Regions from separate parts of the Homo sapiens genome. Here region 1 is linked to region 2. Evidence: fine-mapped expression QTL. A gene starts in region 2. The other region holds a variant in brackets. All regions are shown on one strand. Distances are from middle to middle. Region 1 has its middle 35 kb from the start of ARL4A. Region 2 holds the start of ARL4A (ARF like GTPase 4A).

What was found.
Region 1: its variant is fine-mapped to the expression of ARL4A in monocytes after R848 (Quach 2016, PIP 0.95).

Annotation. Positions count from the first base shown.
Region 1 is chr7:12,716,863-12,727,640 of GRCh38, reverse strand. No RefSeq gene overlaps it. Among named protein-coding and RNA genes, the nearest start is that of ARL4A, 35 kb to the right of the region's middle. RefSeq lists an enhancer at 4,563-4,857 and a cis regulatory region at 4,526-4,926. The variant GAGA/A (reference allele first, on the strand shown) is at 6,040.
Region 2 is chr7:12,683,441-12,694,218 of GRCh38, reverse strand. It overlaps ARL4A (ARF like GTPase 4A), which reads right to left and starts at 6,586. Exons shown (of 2, transcript NM_005738.5): 1 at 6,491-6,586; 2 at 3,261-6,053. The coding sequence starts at 5,964. The coding sequence ends at 5,362. It also overlaps the pseudogene LOC100505995. RefSeq lists silencers at 7,022-7,071, 7,272-7,551 and an enhancer at 6,541-7,077.

The DNA.
Region 1 (10,778 bases), 33 kb before region 2:
GTGCTGCACTTTTCTTTCATGAGAGTCCCCAGGGTGCTTACAAGAAAATTCCCAAAGCAGGTTGTGTGGGAGTTTGTAGCATGCAACCTAATAATTTCTCACCAAAACATAGATGGGACTTAGAATGAATGAGACAAAATATACTTGGAAGTGTTTTCACTAGGGAAAAACCTGTGGCTGAAGACAAGGATGTAATACCACTTTTCCAGAGTTTAGTAGTTAGTTGGCCTTAACAAAACTGGGATGCATCTTATCTCCAAGACTGAGCCATAGCCACATTCCTTGCGTTTTGTGTTACCTCCTCTGGAGGAGCCAGCAGATTTTGCCTATCTCTGGAAGTTCCAATTATTACAAGAGACTAGCATGAGTTCTAGAACTGCTCTCCCTTTGGGCTCTACTCCAAAACTGAACTTCATTAATACCTTAAAGCCCACATCCACCCATCTTCCCTTTCTCATTCACTCCATCCTACCCCACCCTGCATTAAAACTTACATTTACTCAAGAAAGCTGATTTCAGCTTACTGGTAGAAGGAAAACTATTGAAAAAAAGGTTCAGTTTAAGCTAAATAGTGGCAACAAGTGTTAACCCTTTCAGGCAAATTAAACAGCTTTAAGTGGCTTGTAAAGCCAAAGGAGCAAATTTCTATTGATGAAATTTCTATGGAGATAGTTTTGGTCGAGGCCTTCTCTCGTTTTATACTGTGCACAAAAATTGACTATTTTGTTCTGAACAAAGGCAACTCTAAGTAGACTTATGACTTAATGGAAGCAGTACTTCGATGACATGATACCTTCAAGGAAGGCCACCTTCCCAATAGGTGGAGGGAGGTGTGGAGTAGTGGAGAAAGCCAACCAAAGAGGAGTCCACTGATGCTACCTGGGCTTGAGGAGGGGTTGGGGGAGCTGCAGCAGATACGATAAGTGATGGGTCATTTTTAAAATCAGCCACTTGGATACAAAGTTGATCTGCTTTAAATGATTTAAAGTAAATCACTTGAGGATAAAAGCAGTGAGGCACCCTGGAAAGAGAACAGTCCCTACAGTTAGGAAGAAACACCAGACCCCACAATTTACTGTACAAGGGACTCTGGACACATTATTTAACCAAACCTAACCTGATAGGCAGTTTCTTCATTTCAAAAATACATAATTAGAAGATTTGAGATAGCTTGCTGCGTATATTAGACACTCAATAAATTGAAATATATAAAATAATTACTTACTATGTATATCCTGGGGGAAGAGCTAATGTCAGAGGCACAGTGAAGTAATGGTGACCTAGGGCTCGATTTTTCTCTCTTCATATTTTCTATCTAGCAGCTGGTTAGCAGTTATTACCAGAATTAACAACTTCAACAAATTCTACTTCTTCAACAAACTCTTCTTCTGACTCTAACTACAGCAACCTTTCTTTCTCTCTTTCTTTTCTTTCTTTCTTTTTCTGTCTCTCTTTCTTTCTTTCCTTCTTTCAAAACTTAAGTGTAGATAGAAATGAGCTATTTATAGCCACTACACTAGGCTGAAAATCTTGGAACCAATGTGGGTGCTGGGATGGGCCTCCAAGATTCAAGCCAATGTTAAAGGTGTATAACTAATTAAGAGGCTGGGTTCTAATAAATTACCCATTTATTTCAGCTGTGTGGGAGTAGCTATGGGGGTAAATAAAGGGGGTAAATAAGCATCAAAATGAGGAAAGGTGCAGCTGTTGACAATCTGATGACCTGCTTCAAGTCAGAAAGAAAAAGGTAAAGATTTTCTTTGCAATTAAAAAATAAGAAATTGCTGGGTGTGGTGACATATGCCGGTAGTCCAAGCTACTCAGGCGCCTGAGGCAGGAGAATCGCTTGAGCCCAAGAGTTCAAGGCTGCAGAGAGTGATGATTGCATCACTGCACTCCTGCCTGGACAACAAAGGGAGACCCCATCTCTTAAAAAAAAAAAAAAAACGAATAAGAAAGAAAACTTAAAATGATCTAAGGAGTCTTGATAACATCAATACCATAGACCTCAAATTTTCTATTAGTTTACAGAGTTATCAATTACATATTTATAGGCTATCATATTGAAAAGTAACAAAGGGCAGACAATGATTAAATACATTTTATAAAATATTTAGTCCTTCTATCCAAATAAAACTTAATATCCCTTTTCAAGTTTAATAATATGTCTGAAAGCAGTTTTGTCATATTAAGTAGAAGTAACATACCATACAGGATTAAGAAATGTTTTTATAATTAAGAACACTCAATTTTATTGAATGAATAATTTATTTATTGGACATCAAAAATGTATCATTTCTGGGAACTTATTTTCTAGGAAAAATTTTGCAGATGTAAATATTTCTCCGATAGAAATCTCAGAATTTTTAGAACATTGTTCAGTTATTTTTACTTAATCCTAGTACACATCTAATATCCAAAGTGAGACTCTACAGAAAATACAATCATTATTTAAGACAGAATATGCAAAGTAGAAATGGGAAATGATTAATACATTGAACATCATATTCATTCAGTCAATGAATATTATCAAATGTCTTCTATGTGCCAGGCACTGGGGAAAAACAACCATGAAGAAGACAGATATGTTCCTCACCATCAAAGTGGAATATAGGAATAATGGCCAAAGAACAAAATTACAATTGTAATAATTGGTATAAAAAGGTAAGAAGGAGAAACTGAATTCAAAGGAAGTAGCCCATCATAATAAAGTGTTTTTTTCTCCTAAAATCTATGAAATACTATGCAGGCCTAGATGCAAAGGAGAGAATGGTCCACTCAAGTAACAAAAGAAATCCAGAATTGCTGGAGGGAAAAAATCAAAAGAAAGAGTAGTGAAAAATGGTAGTGGGACTTTAAACTGTGGCTAAACAACCATACGGGATCGCAAAAGCCATATAAAGGTCAATCCACTGGGCTCTTTTTATCTGAGGGTTCTGTATCCATGCATTCAACCAATGAGGATAGAAAATATTTGGAAAAATTTTAAAAACAAAAATACAACAATAAAAATAATACAAATTTAAAATACAGTATGACAACTATTTATATAGCATTTACCTTGAATTAGCAATCTAGAAATGATTGAAATTATACAGGAGGATGTGCATAGGTTATATGCAAATACTATACCATTTTATATAAGGGACTCAAGCACCTGCAGATTTTGGTATCCATGGGTGTCAGGAATAGGGGAGAGGTACTATAACCACTACCCAAAGGATACCAAGGAACCACTGTAGTTTAAAGACATTAAAAGCCATCGAAGGCTAGGCATGGTGGCTCACGCCTGTAATCCCACCACTTCGGGTGGCCCAACCGGGTGGATCTCCTGAGGTCAGGAGTTTGAGACCAGCCTGACCAATATGGCAAAACCCCATCTCCACTAAAAATACAAAAATTAGCTATGCGTAGTGGCGCATGCCTGTAATCTAAGCTACTCGGGAGGCTGAGGCAGAAGAATGACTTGAACCCAGGAGGCAGAGGTTGCAGTGAACCGAGATCGCGTCACTGCACTCCAGCCTGCGCGATGGAGACTGCTTAAAAAAAAAAAAAAAAAAAAAAAAAAAAGGCTGGGCGCGGTGGCGCACGGCTGTTAATTCCAGCACTTTGGGAGGCCGAGGCAGGTGGATCACGAGGTCAGGAGTTCGAGACAAGCCCGACCAACATAGTGAAACCCTGTTTCTACTAAAAATACAAAATTAGCTGGGCATGGTGGTGCATGCCTGTAATCCCAGTTACTCGGGAGGCTGAGGCAGGAGAATCACTTGAACCTGGGAGACGGAAGTTGCAGTAAGCCGAGATCATGCCATCGCACTCCAGCCTGGGCAACAAGAGCAAAACTCTATCTCAAAAAAAAAAAAAAAGCCATTGTAGGGTTTTTAAGAAAAGTATGATGATTTGATTTGCATATTTAAGGATCACTGTCACTGAGTGGCTGATGGGCAGAAGGGGAGTAGCAGTGGTTCATAAAAATTTATTGTGAGCTTCTTGTGTGTCCCATACATTACAAAGAGATTTACATTAATTACCTATGTAACTCATCTTAAAATCCTTTGAGGTAGATACTATTTTATCCCACCCTCATAGAAGAAGAAACTAAGGTTAAACAAGTTTTGACAAACAGATATTTTAAAACCTAAAAGTCAGACTCAGAGCCCATACTTAATTACCATTAAGAAGATGAATTAGAAGCCTATTACAGAAATTCTGGCTGAGAAAACTGTGGCTTACACTAGAGGGTATGTAGTGGGGTTGGAAAGAAGTGGAAAGATTCAAGAGATATTACACGCATTCTGGTGCTAGAGCAGAGGGAGGGAAGAGGAAGGAGATGGCTGTCCCTAGGTTTGAGCATTTGGGTAGAAGCTGCTTCGTTTAAGAAATACTTAGCAGAGAAGTATACAAATTTTACGTTTGAACACTTTGCCTGAGAAACTTCCAGAGGAAAATGCCAAAGAGGCTGTTGGCTATATGGGTTGGGAATACAACAGTGCAGTCTGGGACACAGACATAAATTTAAAAATCTTCAGCAAATGCATAGTGTTTGAAGATACAGGAGAGGAAGAAATTTCTACGGCCACAATTTTCAAATGTAGTGTGTTGAAGACTCACTTAAAGAACTTGTTAAAAATGCAAATCCATGATCTCATCTCCCTCAAATACTAAGTATTCTTACTCTGCATGTTTCCAGGAAAAGGAAGGCAAGTAATTCTTATGCAGTTGGTTAGTTAATCTTTGAACAAATGAGGTAAAGAGAGAATGAGATAAAAAGAGGCAGTAGGACAGGGCCTGATGAACTCTAAAAAGATAAGTATATGAGAAATACTCAGCAAAATATATAGAAAAAAGAGCAGCCAGAATGATAGGAAGAACAGAGATGAGAATTGTGTCAAGAAATTTAAGCCAAGAGAGTGTATTTATAGGAGGAAGTTGGCAATAGTGTCAAATGCTGACATCTTAGCAGCATTTCTGAGCCAACTCTCTTCTTGGCCCTGAGGATCCCAAAAAGAACATGATATACCCACAGTTACGGGGGAGATACAACTACATCATACTAGGCACTAATTTTTATGTTGTATACATTTTATTTTACTTAAAACTTATATAGACTTATGTTTACTTACACTTGTAATATAGCTGTTATTATCTGTATTATTTATAGATAAAAATGAGGTTTACTGAGATTATATTTCTGGGTTGATATTAGTAAATGGCAGACTCATAATTCAAGCCCAGATCTGTCTGATTCCAGTGGCAATGCTCTTCTCAGCTATTGAGTATCACATTGCCTTTTACTATTGTGTCAGAGCACGTACAAGATGTTGAGGAAACATAAAGGAGGAACACATTACTCAGAAAGGTGGATACAGAAGTGTCAGGGAAGGTTGCACATCAACTGAGCCTTGAATGAGAAGAAATTGGCCAATCATACGAGAGTGGGAAGGGGTTCCAGTAAAGCAGTATGAGCAGGCAGTGCTGGAAAGAGAGAGCATCAACTTCAGGGAACTTCTGAAGCACAGGCTTCATGTAAGGGAGATAGGAGATCTGAGGGGGAATAAGTGAAGGTAGGAACTTTATCTTAAAGAGGAATCATCTAAGTATTTCGAACATGGGACTGTCTAGGGCGGATTTGTATAGAAAATTTATGGCAACAGTGTGAAGGATGAATTTGAGGAAAAGGAGGAGAGTAATCACAGGCAGACCAAGTGAGAGCCTCGCCAGTGATTGAAAATAGAAAAAAAGACCAGGCGCGGTGGCTCACACCTGTAATCCCAGCACTTTGGGAGGCCAAGGCAGGTGTATCACCTGAGGTCAGGAGTTTGAGAACAACCTGGCCAACATGGCGAAACCCTGTCCCTACTAAAAATACAAAAATTAGCCAGGCATGGTGGTAAGCGCCTGTAATTCCAGCTACTTGAGAAGCTGAGGCAGGAGAATCCCTTGTACCCCATAGGTGGAGGTCGCAGTGAGCCGAGATCACACCACTGTACTCTAGCCTGGATGACAGAGCAAGACTCTATCTCAAAAAAAAAAAAAAAA[GAGA/A]GAGAGAGAGAAAGAGAAAAAGGAGGCATGTCAGAGAGATGGGGAAGACACAAAGTAAAAAGAACTGGGTGGCTTGGATCAAGGGTGAGAGGGCGGTGACAGAGAGAGAGCCACATGGCATGAATACCAATTTTCTGACTTGGGCAATGGGATAGCTGGTAGGAAATGAAGCTGATATGGAAACAAACACTGAGAGTTAAGTTTTGGAGTTTGAATTGCCTGCAGAACTTCCAGGAGGACACATTGTAAACGTGGCTGGGTACATAGGTCTGGAACTTAACAAGAAGTTAAGGCCTGAAATCAGAGTATGTAAGCAACATTGATCCCCAAACTCATCTGACCACTAAACTCTTTGTCTAAAACGAAAAAGTTGTAGGAAAAGTTTATAATTCTCTCCTACTGGGAAAATTTGGAAGCTTTATCAGTGTCTCTTTTCTTCCCCATTTTTTTCAATAGTCACTGGAAAAAACAAGGAAGAAGGCAGAGCAGGAGCTCCTACCTGAATCTTCTCCATAGTCTATTATTTTACCAGAGATTTTTATCCATTTGCTTGAAAACAGGTGGGAATATCACTCAGAAGGATAGATTTTATCTAGTTAATACAAAAAATATTTTATGATTCATCCTGTTTTTTTATTCCCTACTTTTCATAAGTTTGTGAATCTCATTGCCAGTGACTTGGTTTTTTCTCAGGTTGTTTTTTTCTTTTTTTGAGATAGAGTCTAGCTCTGTCACCCAGGCTGGAGTGCAATGGCGCGATCTCAGTTCACTGGGACCTCCGCCTCCCAGGTTCAAGCCATTCTCCTGCTTAGCCTCCTGAGTAGCTGGGACTACAGGCGCATGCCGCCACGCCCAGGCTAATTTTTTGTACTAATTTTAGTAGAGATGGGGTTTCACCGTGTTTAGCAGAGATGGGGTTTCACTGTGTTGAGGGGTGTTGAGGACTACCGTGTTGCCCAGGCTGGTCTTGAACTCCTGAGCTCAGGCAATCCACCCACCTCAGCCTCCCAAAGTGTTAGGATTACAGGCGTGAGCCACCACGCCTGGCCATGTTCTCGGTTTTGATGTATAATTTGGATTAAAGAGAGAAAAGGGAAGAAATTATGATTGTACCATATTTTGTCTTGTGATATTTTCAATAATCAAAACAATTTAGCTGTCATGTGAAGAATTCTGTCATCAAGCAGGCAAAAATCAATCCACAAAGAATGATAAGGGCAATGTTTATCCTGCGAAGCAACAGGCTGCTAAAATATTGCTTTCATTTCTCTCTAACGGCAGCAATCCTACAGAAAAAAATATCACATCATTTATTCTTGGTGTGATGTAAGTTTTTTTTAGGGTCTTGCGGCGGGAGGGGGGAGGCGGTAACATTGCACAATTTTTTAAAGTAATACTTTTAAAAGGGAATTTCCATAACAACCCTGTAATTATTAAGTGGAAATGGCTTCATTGCTAGACAGGAAGGCCTATCCCAGCCAAAAAAAAAAAAAACCCTCAGTAGATTTCCGTTTGAAAATTACTCTTGAGAATCTAAAGTAGTAAAAATAAGTAAAGATTATTCTAGTTCATGCAGCTAGAGGCTTCTCCCCCTCATTTTTTAGCATGAATGCCACTTTCTTTTAGAAAGATAGATTGTACAAACCAGCTCTCCTTCTGTGATGCGCTTAGTATGGATGAAGATACAAAGGAAAGGTGAATCTTTATCATCCTTCAAACTTTCATTGAATTGTCAAAATTAGGAGCATTTGCTCTTTTTTTTTTCTCTCACTAGATTTCTTCTGTTTTGGGGAATTCCTATAATTGTGCTCTCCCCACCCCCACCCCCACCACCCACAGTGACTCAGGATCATATTATAAAGGTTACAGTTGAGACAATTTTAACAGACTCGGGTTGAATTTGAGGGTACTTAGTCATCATAGCTTCTAGTATATTTGATTACTCCCTAAAAGGCCTACTTGGCAAGTGCACGTTGTCTAAACTCGGCTGGCACATTCAGGGAAAAAATAAAGTAAAATAAAACCTGCTGGACTGATCTTGAAGAAAGGTCTCATATCAAGGAGGGATGGTAAATCACATAGGCCAAGTTATTTCTTAATCAGTAAGAAAAAGACAAATGATAGAGCAGAAAAAGAAGTCTTTGGACTACAGTCATGACTGATAAAAGCATGATCTTTCCTTTCTGATTCTTTACATGAATGTGCAAGTCAAGGGCGTCAGGAATATAAAAACTCCTGAAAATTTGGCAAGGCTGTGTAGTAAACATTACTGGGAAGACTGCGCAACCCATGCATCACCAACTGCCTTCTCTGAAAATTGCCCCACCCATAGCCATGCCTGAGACCTGATCATAGAACATGATTATTATCCTATTCTGCCTGTGGAGGATCAGGATTTATAGCTGACATAGCCTGATCCACAGTGACTTTTCCAGGCCAGGGGCTGGAATTGGGATCCAGCCCTGGCCACCAGCCCTAGGAAAGTAATACACAGCAGAAAAGCTAGTCTGTAGAGAGAGAAGAGAAGAGCTATGGAGAGGTACAAAAACAAAAGACTATGAAATGGCTTGAACAACAAGGTAAATAGTGGTTTAATTAGTTGGACAAGGCTAGGATAGTTAAAAGTCCTTTTCCATACATGTGACAACCATTTTAATTAAACATACAAAGGGAGATGTGGATTAGACATCTGAAACCAGCGGAGATGTCAGGATGGAAGACAGAAATTTTAGACTCATCAGCATAGAGATCGTTTTTAAATTCATGGGGTTGGATGAGGTCAACAATGAATAGAAAATGGATAGAGAACAGAGACTGAAGCAAATCCAAAATGCTGTAGCATTTGGCAATTGAGTAAAGAAGTAAAAATTAGCAAAGGAGAACAAGCAGGAACAGCAAGAGAGGTAGAAAGGAAATCAGTTGAGTGTGATATCACAGAAGCCGAGAGAGTAGTGTTTCTAGAAGGAGTGATCAAATCAGCTCAATCTTACAAAAACAATTAAGATAAAAATATTAACACTTCTTGGAACTATTTGTATTTAGTTTTTCTTATCAAATGAATGTTATTTATACTGATTTTGACTGATATTAAGGTTTCATATCTAAAATAAAAATATAAGTCAAAAACTTTTTAAATGCCTCAGACAGACCCAATTGGCTTTAGTTAAGAAAAAAATTGGTTCAAGCCAGGTGCAGTGGCTCATGCCTGTAATCCCAGAACTTTGGGAGACCAAGACAGGTGGATCGCTTGAGCCCAAGAGTTTGAGACCAGCTTGGGCAAAACAGCCAAACCCCATTTCTATAAAAATATAAAAATTAGCTGGATGTGGTGACTTGCACCTGTAGTTCCAGCTACTTGGGAGGCTGAGGTGGGAAGATTGGTTGTGCCTGGGAGGTGGAGGTTGCAGTGAACCGAGATTGTGCAACTGCACACTTCAGCCTAGGCGACAGAGACAGACGCTGTCTCAAAAAAAAGAAGAAGGAAGGAAGAAAAAAGGAAAAGAGGGACGGAGGGAGGGAGGAAGGGAGGGAGGGAAGGGAGAAAAAGAAAAAAGCGGCTGGGCAAATGGTTCATTCCTGTAATCCCAGCATTTTGGGAGGCCAAGGCAGGAGGATTGCTTGAGGCCAGGACTTTGAGACCACCCTGGGCAATACAAACATCCTGTCTTATGCCTAGTGGATGTGTCTGTGTGGACGTGCACACACATTGGCTGATGAACCCCCCTTCCTGTTTTACAAACAGGCTCTACAAACAGACAAAATATATTTACAAAAAAGATACATCCATCTATACACACACATATATTAGCTGTCTATACAGCTATCTCTACAAACAGACAAAATATATTTACAAAAAAGATACATCCATCTATACACACACATATATTAGCTGTCTATACAGCTGTCTCTACAAACAGACAAAATATATTTACAAAAAAGATACATCCATCTATACACACACATATATTAGCTGGGTAGCCAGGTGTGGTGGTGCGTGCTTATAGATCTAGTTACTTGGAAGGCTGAGGCAGGAGGATCACTTGAGCCACAGAGTTTGAGTTTTCAGTGAGCTATGATTGTACCATGGCACTCCAGCCTGGTACGGGGTGACAAAGCGAGACCCCATATCAAAAAGAAAAAGAAGAAAACAAACAAACGAAAGGGTAGGAGCAGGTTGTTTTACAACAGTTTTTTGTAATAACTAAAATTGGTAGGTGTAGATTAGTCTAGGTGTGAGATTCTAAAAAGAAATGTCATCATGAATGTTTTCTGAGAGTCACTTTGAAGAAGAGTTAGGATATTGTTTGATGGATGATAATGAATGTCCATTCCAGGGAGGGGGTCTGAATGCAAAAAGGAAGACTTAAAAGAGGTCTGCACAGCTGGAGCAAAAATGATCCCCAAATAATTTTATGAAAACTGTTGCAAAGCAATAAAAGAGGCAATGGTGATTGTGCCAAGCGTATGCGGGAGAGAGCTTGTTGGGCCAGTGGAGAGAGGTGCTTACTTGTCCGGTAATATTTATCAGCACTTCCCCTACACCATCTAAATAAAAACAACGTGCTTCCTAAGTCAGCACTTCAAAGCAAGTCTTCTGACCCCCTAGTTTGACCAGACTGGCCTCCAAGCCCTACTTTATGCTAAGGCTGCTGTAATTAATGGGCCACGTTTCTTAGCAGATGCAATCTTGAACTCTGGAGACTACCAGATCTTGCTAGAAGCTCTGTTCTCCCCAT
Region 2 (10,778 bases):
TAAATACCATTTCCTAATACAAGGAACCTGGCATCCTAGAAAAACAGATCTGGGACAGGAAATGTACAGGTTAAGGGACTTTGTGTTAAATGAGAAATCAAAAAAGCCATCAAAAACTACTAGGGTTCTGTGAAAAAGACTCAGTTCTCTCTAAAGATGAGACAATTTATGCATAAATGGGAATAATAAGCTGCAAGAGATAGAAATATATCAATATATCAAATATATATATATTTTTTGAAATGGAGTTTCGCTCTTGTCACCCAGGCTAGAGGGCAATGGCGCAATTTTGGCTCACTGCAACCTCCGCCTTCTGGGTTCAAGCAATTCTCCTGCCTCAGCCTCCCGAGTAGCTGGGACTCCAGGCATGCACCACCACGCCCAGCTAATTTTCTGTATTCTCACGCCTGTAATCCCAGCACTTTGAGAGGCCGAGTTGGGAGGTTCACGAGGTTAGGAGTTCGAGACCAGCCTGGCCAACATGGTGAAACCTCGTATCTACTAAAAACACAAAAATTAGCCCTGCATGGTGGCAAGTGTCTGTAATCCTAGATACTGGGGAGACTGAGGCAAGAGAATGGCATGAACCCAGGAGACTGAGGTTGCAGTTAACTGAGATCATGCCATTGCACTCCAGCTTGGGTGAAAAGAGCAAGACTCTGTCTCAAATAATAATAATAATAGAAATCTAAACACTGGATGGATATTTGGTTATTTTGAAGAAGCATATTTTTTTTACATGTGAGTGAAATTTTTTTAAGTGATTATCTTTTAGACACATATACCACTATTTATAAATGAAATGTAATTTCCAGAACTCACTTCAAAATAATCTAGAAGTGGAGGAAAAAGGAAGGTGGCATGGAAGGAAGTGAATGGAAGTATAGAGGAAACCAGATTGGCCCTGAGTTGATAATTAATGAAACTAGATGACAGATACTTGGGTGTTTGTTATATTATTCTACTTCTGTATAAGATTGAAATCTGTCATAACAAAAAGTTAAGATTTTATCTAAAGGTAGACCTTCACTGAAATGAATCAACTTCAACATCTCTCTTCAACCACTAATACAGGTAATCTCCACTTCAGTGCAACATAAACAGGAGACATAAAACAAGACCAAAGACTGAAAGTAACTGGAAAATAACACAGCACACATAATCACCCACAAACACAACCACCATCATCAACCAGATGTGCCCACAGATACTGCAAATTTGATCTTATCATTCGATCAAATTTGTGAATTATAGATAACAATCTTGAGGCATTTTGAAGAACCATAATATATAGTTTCAAATTTTAATGTCTGAAAAGTGAGGTATTGTATTTTGATATATGCCTACACCAGAAAATAACCGAGATTTTAAATTAAATTTTATCTCTTACAGGGAAAGGTAAGATAATATTGTGTTACAATAAATTGGTACTTTAGAAACCTAAGTACCATATGATCCCTTGAAATGATCCATATTTCAAGGGAGTTCAGCATATTTAGACTTTCACTAAGTTCCACCAAGTTGCCATTTTGTGACATGTATGAGCTCACTATGTTATATTCCCCTGCCAAAACAAGTATTTTCTTTAAATACGTTGATCATAAGGTATTCTGGCTATTAATAACTATCAATTGAATGCTTACTAAAGTGTCAGTTACTCTGCTAAATATCATTGCTTGATTTAATCCTTTTAATCAGTTATACCCCAGTGGTAGATATATATAACCCACACTTTACAAATTAAGAAACTAAGGCTGCAAGTAAATTGCCCCAGATGAAATAATAAACATATTGATTCCTACTGGTTAACAATAGTAGGTCAGTTTTTATCAAATGCTTGGCAATATGTGAAAGTTTGTACATGTTATTTCAACACTCTCAAAATTCTATGAAACAGTCTTCATTTAACCAGGAGGGCATTCTCATCATAAGTTTCAAGGAATTTGCTAAAGGTTCATGTGTAATAACGGGAGAGCCAGGATTTGAACACTGATCTGACTCCAAAGCTCATGTTTTTAGCCAGTACATTTAACATCCTCCTAAACTAGCTTCCTGTACAGGTATTCCCATATTTTTAATGTGCATGCACAGAATTGAATACATACTCTGGCTATGGTTTGTTGAGACTATTACTTCTGATCTTCATAGATTTTAATATTAACATTATGATTTTACATTTCCAGAATGTTCCGCCAAATTTAAACCTTAAAGGTAAAATTCCAGCTTCAAATGATGGTGTACTCAAGATTCTCAATTGCATCAGCTGAATGCTGAGTTTTTACATCATATAAAGTTTGATAAAACTTTTTTTGCATCTTTATTATCGCTGATGAAATCATTGTTTACATTACAGAGGAAATTGTTGTATTAAATAGAATCTTGAAAAACCAAAGATTTCCTTCAAGGTCACCATGAATTATTAATGGAACAATCCTTGCATCAAATGTCTTGTACAGGCTGGGCATGGTGGCTACTTTCTGTAATCCCAGCACTTTGGGAGGCTGAGGCGGGTGGATCACCTGAGGTCAGGAGTTCAAGAACAGCCTGGCCAACATGGCGAAACCCCATCTCTACTAAAAATAAAAATTAGCTGGGCATGGTGGTGTGCCTGTAATCTCAGCTGCTTGGGAAGCTAAGACAGGAGAATCACTTGAATACAGGAGGCAGAGGTTGTAGTAAGCTGAGATTGTGCCACCGCACTACAGCCTGGGCAAGAGAGCAAGACTCTGTCTCAAAAAAAAAAAAAAAATGCCTTGTACAAACAAAGTCTATGCCTTTCCCTCTGTTGATAAACCATCACTCATTTACAGACCAGTAATTATTCTTATATATTATATATATATTTACATTAATAACTTCATTTTTTTGTCTCCCTATAAAGATTTAGTTCATTTTTCCATGATTAAGTCTTAGTAAACTTCTGATGGTTTAAGAATACCATTTATAAACCATTTTAAGAACTCTGCACATTTTAAAAATTATCTTTAACTATCAAAAGGTTTTATTTTTCTTACACTTTGTTCTTTGATATTAACTTGGATTCAGTTGAGCAGTCCTTAATATTTTGTATTAAACCAAGTAACTTCAAATACAAGAAAATATTTTAGAACTATGCACTAGAAAAGGTGCGCCATAAGAAGAAACTAGATATGAAAGCATAGTCTAAACTCTTCAGAATTTAAAGACTCATTATACTACAGTGTTAATAACTAGAATAGGCGGTAGGGAACTTGAACTTAGCAAGCTAGAAAATCTTAGGATGGGTTTTATAGCTGAAATTGTCTTTTATAAATCAAAGTTTGTACAGTGTTCATACCATTTTCTCTTTTGTTGTCCATGAAATATGAAAAACTTAGATAACATTAATTTGTTTACGTACTTAGGCTACAAAGGGTCAACACACAAGCTTTTGAAATACTTAAAAACAGCACTATTTTACATAGTAGGTAGACAGAAAGTACAGGCAAACTGGTAAATCTAATTGATACACAGATTTTTTTTTTCAGCAAGCTTTATTAATCCATCATGGATCTACTCATGTTTGCAGCAGATACCATGATTTCAGTATCAGTGAAGGGAGAAAAAAAAAAAAACAGCCTTCAATGCCTGTCACATCTAAGCAGATCTGAACTACTATGGGACTAAATAGCCTAGCTGGTCAATTGTTTTTACACATCTGATTAAAAGCTTCAGCAAAAGTGGAAATACATTAAAATTCAAAGTCAAATACTGTTCTCCTAGTGCCTCAAGTAGTTTATTGGTAGTTATTATCCACATTTCTATAAACATTCTAAGTGACCATCACTAGTGCAGGAATATTTAACATATGAAGGCTCCACATCAAGCTACTTCATTCATTTTGTGTGACACAAGAATCAAGGTTCCAAAAACTGTTATGCCACTGAAAAAAAAAAAAAACAAAAAAACAAAACCCAAAGCCAAAACAAATCCTGCTAGCAAAGTGCATTTCTTTTGGTGATTTTTCAGAACAGCTGTTGCTTTAGACATAAAAAATAAGCTGATTTAGTAAAATATGGTCACTGGAAGTAAGTGTCTGTAGATAAGAATTAGATAAAGGCCTTTCCTCCTTATAGAGCTTTTTATTCCAATGTAAACAGCACCAGTGAATTTTCATAAAACAGGTTTGTTATTTTCCCCTCATTTTCTATAATTGTAATTCTTATCTGCCATACTGTTACCATTTCTTCCTCTCTATAATCAGGACTGGACAGCCCATGTAACACTGTTCAATTTGTAAACAAAAAATTAAAGCTCGGAACACATACAGGTTATCTTTTACATTTTCATTCTACAGCGCATCAGGTATATTTATAAAGCTTTTGCTCTTCTCAACACACTACAAAAATATATAAAAACCACATTTGTTTTTAGCCAGCAAATATTAATAAAACAAATATCTTGTAACTGGAATATTTTAGAGACCACATATTTTAATTACATCCTCTTGACTAAATCGCCTTCTTCATAAATCCATATATGTATCCAGTGCATATTTATTAGTTTACATGCCCATATTTACTATGAATGAGTCAATCATTTTAGGTTCTTCAAGTGAAAGTGCTTCTGACAACAAACTATTCCTATAATAGCCCTAAATCCCCAAAAAAGTTGTTTTAAACCTGTGTAGAACGATGCATAGCTATTTCTAAAAAGTAAGACTACACACCAAAACATGCTTTGTCAGGAAAACTAATCCATGCACTTGAATATACCCCAAATATCTTATTTTTAATAAAGGTAGACCAACTTAAACATTGTCTAGAATTAAGCTATACTATTAAATTACTTGATTCCAGAAAGCGTCAAAAATCATTTGGCAGAAACTTAAAAAAGAAAATACTTACTCCTTGTCCCTTACTTCAAAAAAGGACTGGTTGGACCAATGTGATCAATATAACTGCATATATGTTAATCTACCTTAACATTTCCATCGATTAGCACTTGATCGTTACAAAGCCTTGTATGCAATTTTCTTGCAAAGGCTTCCCCCCGAAAGATGTAAGCACAAAACACTAGGCAGACACTCTTTAAAGTTTTATTTCACTAACTTCAGACCAAATTCCCACAACTGTGTTCTGGTCAATTTACTATCCTTGCTTGGCTTCCCCAAATGGTAGTACCAAAAGATTTGTGGGGTAGGGAGAAGAGACCACTTTAAGAAGCACTGCATTTACTCATCTTCCACAAGGCAACAGAGTTGGGCATCTGATTGTTCAACAAAACAAAGCTTTAATAGCATCCAGGAGGGCAGACAGGCAAACCACGCTGTAGACACTCTTCTATTTGTCAAAATCAGACCAGAGAAAACCTACTCCACACAGATATAATAGGTATTGATATTCATCTTTTCTTTTTCTGTTGCCGCAACATTTTTCTTCTTTTAATGATCATATCATGTAGTTTCTCAAGTCCTTCCTTTAGGCCATCTCCTATGATTGCACAGGTAGGCTGCAAATGCCAAGGAGTTGATGAGCTCAGTTCACCCATTGCTAACAATTTCTCAATTTCTGAAAGTGACAATGAGTTCCTCAAATCTTGTTTGTTAGCAACTATAAGTACAGGGACTCCCTGATTTTCTGATATCCTAGTTATTTTGTGAAGTTCAGTTTTGGCTTCTTCCATCCTTTCGACATCAACAGAGTCCACAACAAATACAATGCCATCTGTGCATCTGGTATATGACTTCCACAGTGGCCTTAATTTCTCCTGACCACCTACATCCCAGAAGTGAAAAGTGACTGTTTTAGAATTTCCCAAGGTTACCTTAATTTTCTCAGTGTTAAATCCTTTGGTAGGTACGGTATTTACAAATTCATTGAACTGCAGCCTGTATAAGACAGTTGTCTTTCCAGCACAGTCCAAACCCAGAATAACAATGTGGAAAGACTGAAATGAAGGCAGGTTGGACAGGATAGAAGTCTGGTCTGACAGCCCATTCCCCATTTCCAGGTGCAAATAAATGTCCCAAATTGAAATGCTTTTCTCTTCTTGGTTTACAACTTCTCTTGGTAGCTGATCCAGCTATAAGACTGCTGGGAGACGGAAGAAGGAATAAGTTATTCTCCCGAAATAATACATTAAAACAGGTTTGCTCTACTTTGCTAAAATAAACAACACGAAGAACTTACTATAACTTGCTGCGCTAAACAAACCAGACGAGATATGAAACGTACATGAAAACACACACAGTCCAAGACAAACGATGGAATAACAGTGATTGAAATTATCTGGTTTACTTAAATTGCAGTAATATGTACGTTTTTCTCCTGGGTCCCCAAACCTCAAAGACCTCATTCTGGAAAGAACCCAGTCACCAGTATCTGGTCTAAGTGGCCGTAACCACAAAGTGCCTATCTGGCAGAAAACTCATAGCAGATAGTCCTATCTTCGGAATCTAATTCCACATGCTTAACAGCATACCCAAGATCACTATTACCTCCTACCCCTTGCAAAATAACAACGTTCTCACCTCCCGATCTGGAGTCTGGGTCCAAATGAGAAAGCATTGGCAGGCGTTTCTACGCAGGGATAAGCACCCTTCCAGCTTAGCTCTCCAAGCAGCTCTGGCAGTTGCCGCACGAGAAACCTTGGACTCAGACTCCGACCACGCCCACTCCTCCCGGTCCACTCATGATCCCAAATCCCATTGGTCACCCGCATCAGGGAAGCCATGCAACTCCCGCCCCCGCTCCCTAATTGGTGAGGGTAACTGCCGCTCCCAGCGCGGCGGAGCTGAGCTCTCTCTCGGTCCACCGGCACCACCTGTTGCCCTTAAGTTAGAAAAGGCGGCGTTCCCAGAGGGAGCCGAGCAGCCGCTGCAGGTGAAGGGGAGCCTCGGGCGGTCAGGTCGCCGCCAGGCTGCCGGCTCCGTTCGGCCCGGCGCACCTGCAGCGCAGCCAGGGCGTCAAGCCAAGGCTCTCACATCCGGGGCCCGCAGTCACTGCCAACGCGTTAACCCTTTGTCCGCGGGCCCGAGGGTGCCGGCTGTTGCCGCGCGGGCCCCTGAGGCGCTAGAGATCCCACCTGGCGCGCCCGCCGGGATAAGCCCATCCTCCCCGAAGTGGGATCCCTTCACCCTGTCCCTCCGCACACGACCGGCTCTTCTCCCTCGGCAGGGCGTGGCCGCCCCGGCCGCCCACCCCGCCGCGGCTCACCTGACTAACCGTCCTTCCCTCTTCTTCATTCAGCGTCTCTCCCAGCCGCTGGGGAGGCGCGCTGATACCTGTTCCCTGGCACCAGGGAGGCGTGGGCGATGGCAGAGGACTGGGCGCCTGGCGGGCGCCGCGCGCCAGGCTGCCCTAACGGTGCTCGCCCGGCAGCTCCACGCGACAGTCCCCGCCCCCTGCCCGCGCGCCGCCCGGGCGCCGGCCTGTAGGGGGCGCGCAGGAGCCGCGTCTCCTAGCAACGCCAAAACAAGGTCGAGTTCGAATCGGCCTAGCGCTGGCTGCCCGCGAGGTCGGATGGGACTTCCGGCCTCACCCCTGAACGGTTGCTCCGGGTAGCTCTGTCTGCGGCGGCCCGCCAGCCTGGCACAGGCCCCGCCCGGCACCGCCTTCCCTCACGTCGTCTAGGGCGTCCGCGGGGCAGCAGCCACGTGATTCGCGGTTAGGGATTCCATAGTTCACGGGTTACGGCACACACGCGTTACGTATATATCGAGGTGACGTGGAAGTCCCCCAGTAGTTGACCTTAAACAGCCTGGGTTGACTGGCCTGGTAACTGCGCCTTCATTCGCTTTTTGTAGAGCAAATGAACGCGCTGTCTCACGTGTTTCTAGCAGCATCCCGGGGAACTGGCCACAGATAGAAATATTCCAGTTTGACACATAAGGAAATACACTCTGAAAGATGAAAGGGATGTTTCTTTTTTTCTTTTCTTTCAAATTGCTCACACAATTTTAATTGCAATAGATATAATTTCCAATATACCATTCAACTACACCATTTGTATGTGCTGGAGTGAGACAGGAGTATTTTGATTGAGTGTCCAGTTCTCTTTAAAACTAGCGTTTGCAGTTAACGACTTGGAAAATACAACACAAAAAGCCATCTAGCCTTTTTTTTTTTTTTAATCTCTATTTATCCCTTCAAAATTCCCTTTGTGGCCATATACATACTAGGTGGCTCTACCTGCAGAAAGCTGCATTTTCCAAGCAGCGGGAGAGTTTAATTCTTAACTTTCCTGTACTCCAGCCTCTGCTGGCTCCCTTGCATTTTTGTTTCCATCCTCTTCTTTGTCTTCTGTGCCTTTCGTTCTAGGTTAATCTGCGCAAGCTCTTCACTTTTGTCTGAATGTATTTTAGCGGTGAATTACTCCTTCTGGCTAAGAGCTTCACATCTTCAGTGTTAATGGTGGTGGTTTTCGCATGTCTTGCACACATTTCTAGATCTTGCACTGTCGAAAAGTCAGCTCCGAAATTGCTGCAATGATAAGTTTGCTGAACTGCATCTCTGCCCAATGCCACTTCCTCGCAAAGACAACCCACAGTGTAGTCCACTGCTGCCTCCTTTGGCCTCTGTTGGTAAGAAAATGGCTAAGAAAATCGCTGCTGCTCCTCCACCTCCACCTCCTCCTCCATCAGAACGGCGAGGCAAACGCGCAGAACAGAAAGGGGCTGTGGGGCAGCGGCCAGATTGGATTTTCTCTCCGCAGCCCCAAAGGGATGTTTCTAATGACCCAAGGAAAATTAGTGGTGGTCCTGGAACTGTTCATCTAAGTCTACTAGTCATCAAATGCAAAATGCTTTTCATTGGATGATTCTGACTAAATTTTGTCTTTGATCAATAAGTTCACAAATATTTATTGAACACCTAATAGGCAGTAGACACAATTCTGTGTGCTTGGGGATAAAATGGTGAGCAAAATACACTGTCCCTGCCCTTGTGGAATATTGGAGTCTCTATGGATGACTAAATTTATAAAATGTTTTCAGCGGTAATTTCAGGGTGCTTATGACAACCTGCAAAAGAAGTAATGACTTGAAGTTGTAGGAAAGCTTTAATCGACAAACATCTTTTTGGTGAAGGCTGTAAGACTGTAACTTGGAAGAACCTATATGGTACACTTTTTTAAAAGTGTGCTTTTTTTCTTTTTAAATATGGATTGGAGTTTCCTCAAGAAATATCCTAGTTTTTCTCAAGACCGCTATTGCCAGTGATATTTATTTCTTTTATGACTAGCACAGGAACATGCATACTTGTCATACCGGATTCTTTAAAAAGTCGAGACCAACCTGGCCAACGTGGGGAAACCCCATCTCTACGAAAAACACAAAAAATTAGCCAGGCGTGGTGGCGGGCGCCTGTAATCACAGCTACTCAGGAGACTGAAGCAGGAGAATCGCTCGAGCCCGGGAGGCGGAGGTTGCCGAGCCGAGATAGCGGCATTGCACTCCAGCCTGGGCAACAAGAGCGAAACTCCGTCTCAAAAACAACAAAAACAAAAACAAAAAACGACGTAAAAACCTAAGTTCTGAGCACAATGCATAATCTCAAGACAGCCACACTAATTTTGGGAATAAGAGCTAGAAATATCAAATGGCATATTCTATAAACATGAATCTATTATAAACTAAGGATTGCCTGATTAGTTATAATTGTGAAATCTCATTAGCCATTCACATAATCAGCTAATAATTGATAAAGGGCTTAGTGCAATAACCTATTTCCTTTTATTGGAAATTCAATAGGGATTCTTTATTAAACTGGGATAACTTGCAGATTCTCCTTAAGTCAAGAATTTAGAGCAAGAAAATTCTGTGGCCACCCTCTGTTTACAGTAGTTTTGAAATCTCTAAGTCCTTCCAGTGTTCCTTGCACAGTCTTCCCTGGAGCAAAAAGGGAAAAAAGGAAAACAAAAACACTGAGGGCTTCCAATCTTGCAGAATCGTCCTCACTGAATTGCACTTTAATGTTATACCCTAGGTTTTAAAACTACAGTAGTGGTTGGCAAACTGCAGCCTGTAGGTCAAATTCAGGAGATAAGAATGGTTTTTACAAGTTTAAAGGGCTGCAAGAGAATGGATAAGAAAAGAATATGCAATCAAGATCATCTATGCCCCCCACAACACACACATACAAAATAAATGTGCTCTCTGCCTCTGTAGAAAAATGTTTGGTGTGCCTGTTCTATATATAAAAACCATATGAAAACAGCAACAAATGATATTAAAAGCAATGGAATTTGTGGAACACAAGGTTCACTTTGTTGCCTGATCTTATAGAAGGCCCATTCAGAGCTTTTACTTACATTCTATGCCAGAAAAAAATTCCCTTTAGGGCCTGTAGCTTGTAAATAGTGCTCTGGGGTGCCTCAGAATTCCTAGGGGTTCTGTGGGATAGTTTAACTTTTTGAGGGAAACACAGTGACATCTGTTGGACCATATTAACAACTACAACTATCAAGTTTGGATCTATCAATTTCATAAATAGAAATGTTGGCTATTTATTTTGGCCTGAGGTACCATGAAAAAGTACTGAGGCACTAGGGCCTCTGCGAACCTCACCTTTAATTGTGGTTTTCCAAACTTGGCTAATGATGAGAATCACCTGTTAATGCTTGTAAATGTATAGATTCCTGGTTCCTCCTATTTCAGACCCCCCCAAATCAGAATCATCAGGAGAGGAGCCAGTGATCTGTATTTTAAGTAAGTATTTCAGATAATTAATGATTAGACACTTTGAAGAAATACTAATCATAAGAAATGGGTAAGTTTTCTCCTTTTAAATAACTACAACTGAGTAATTTACTTTGATTCT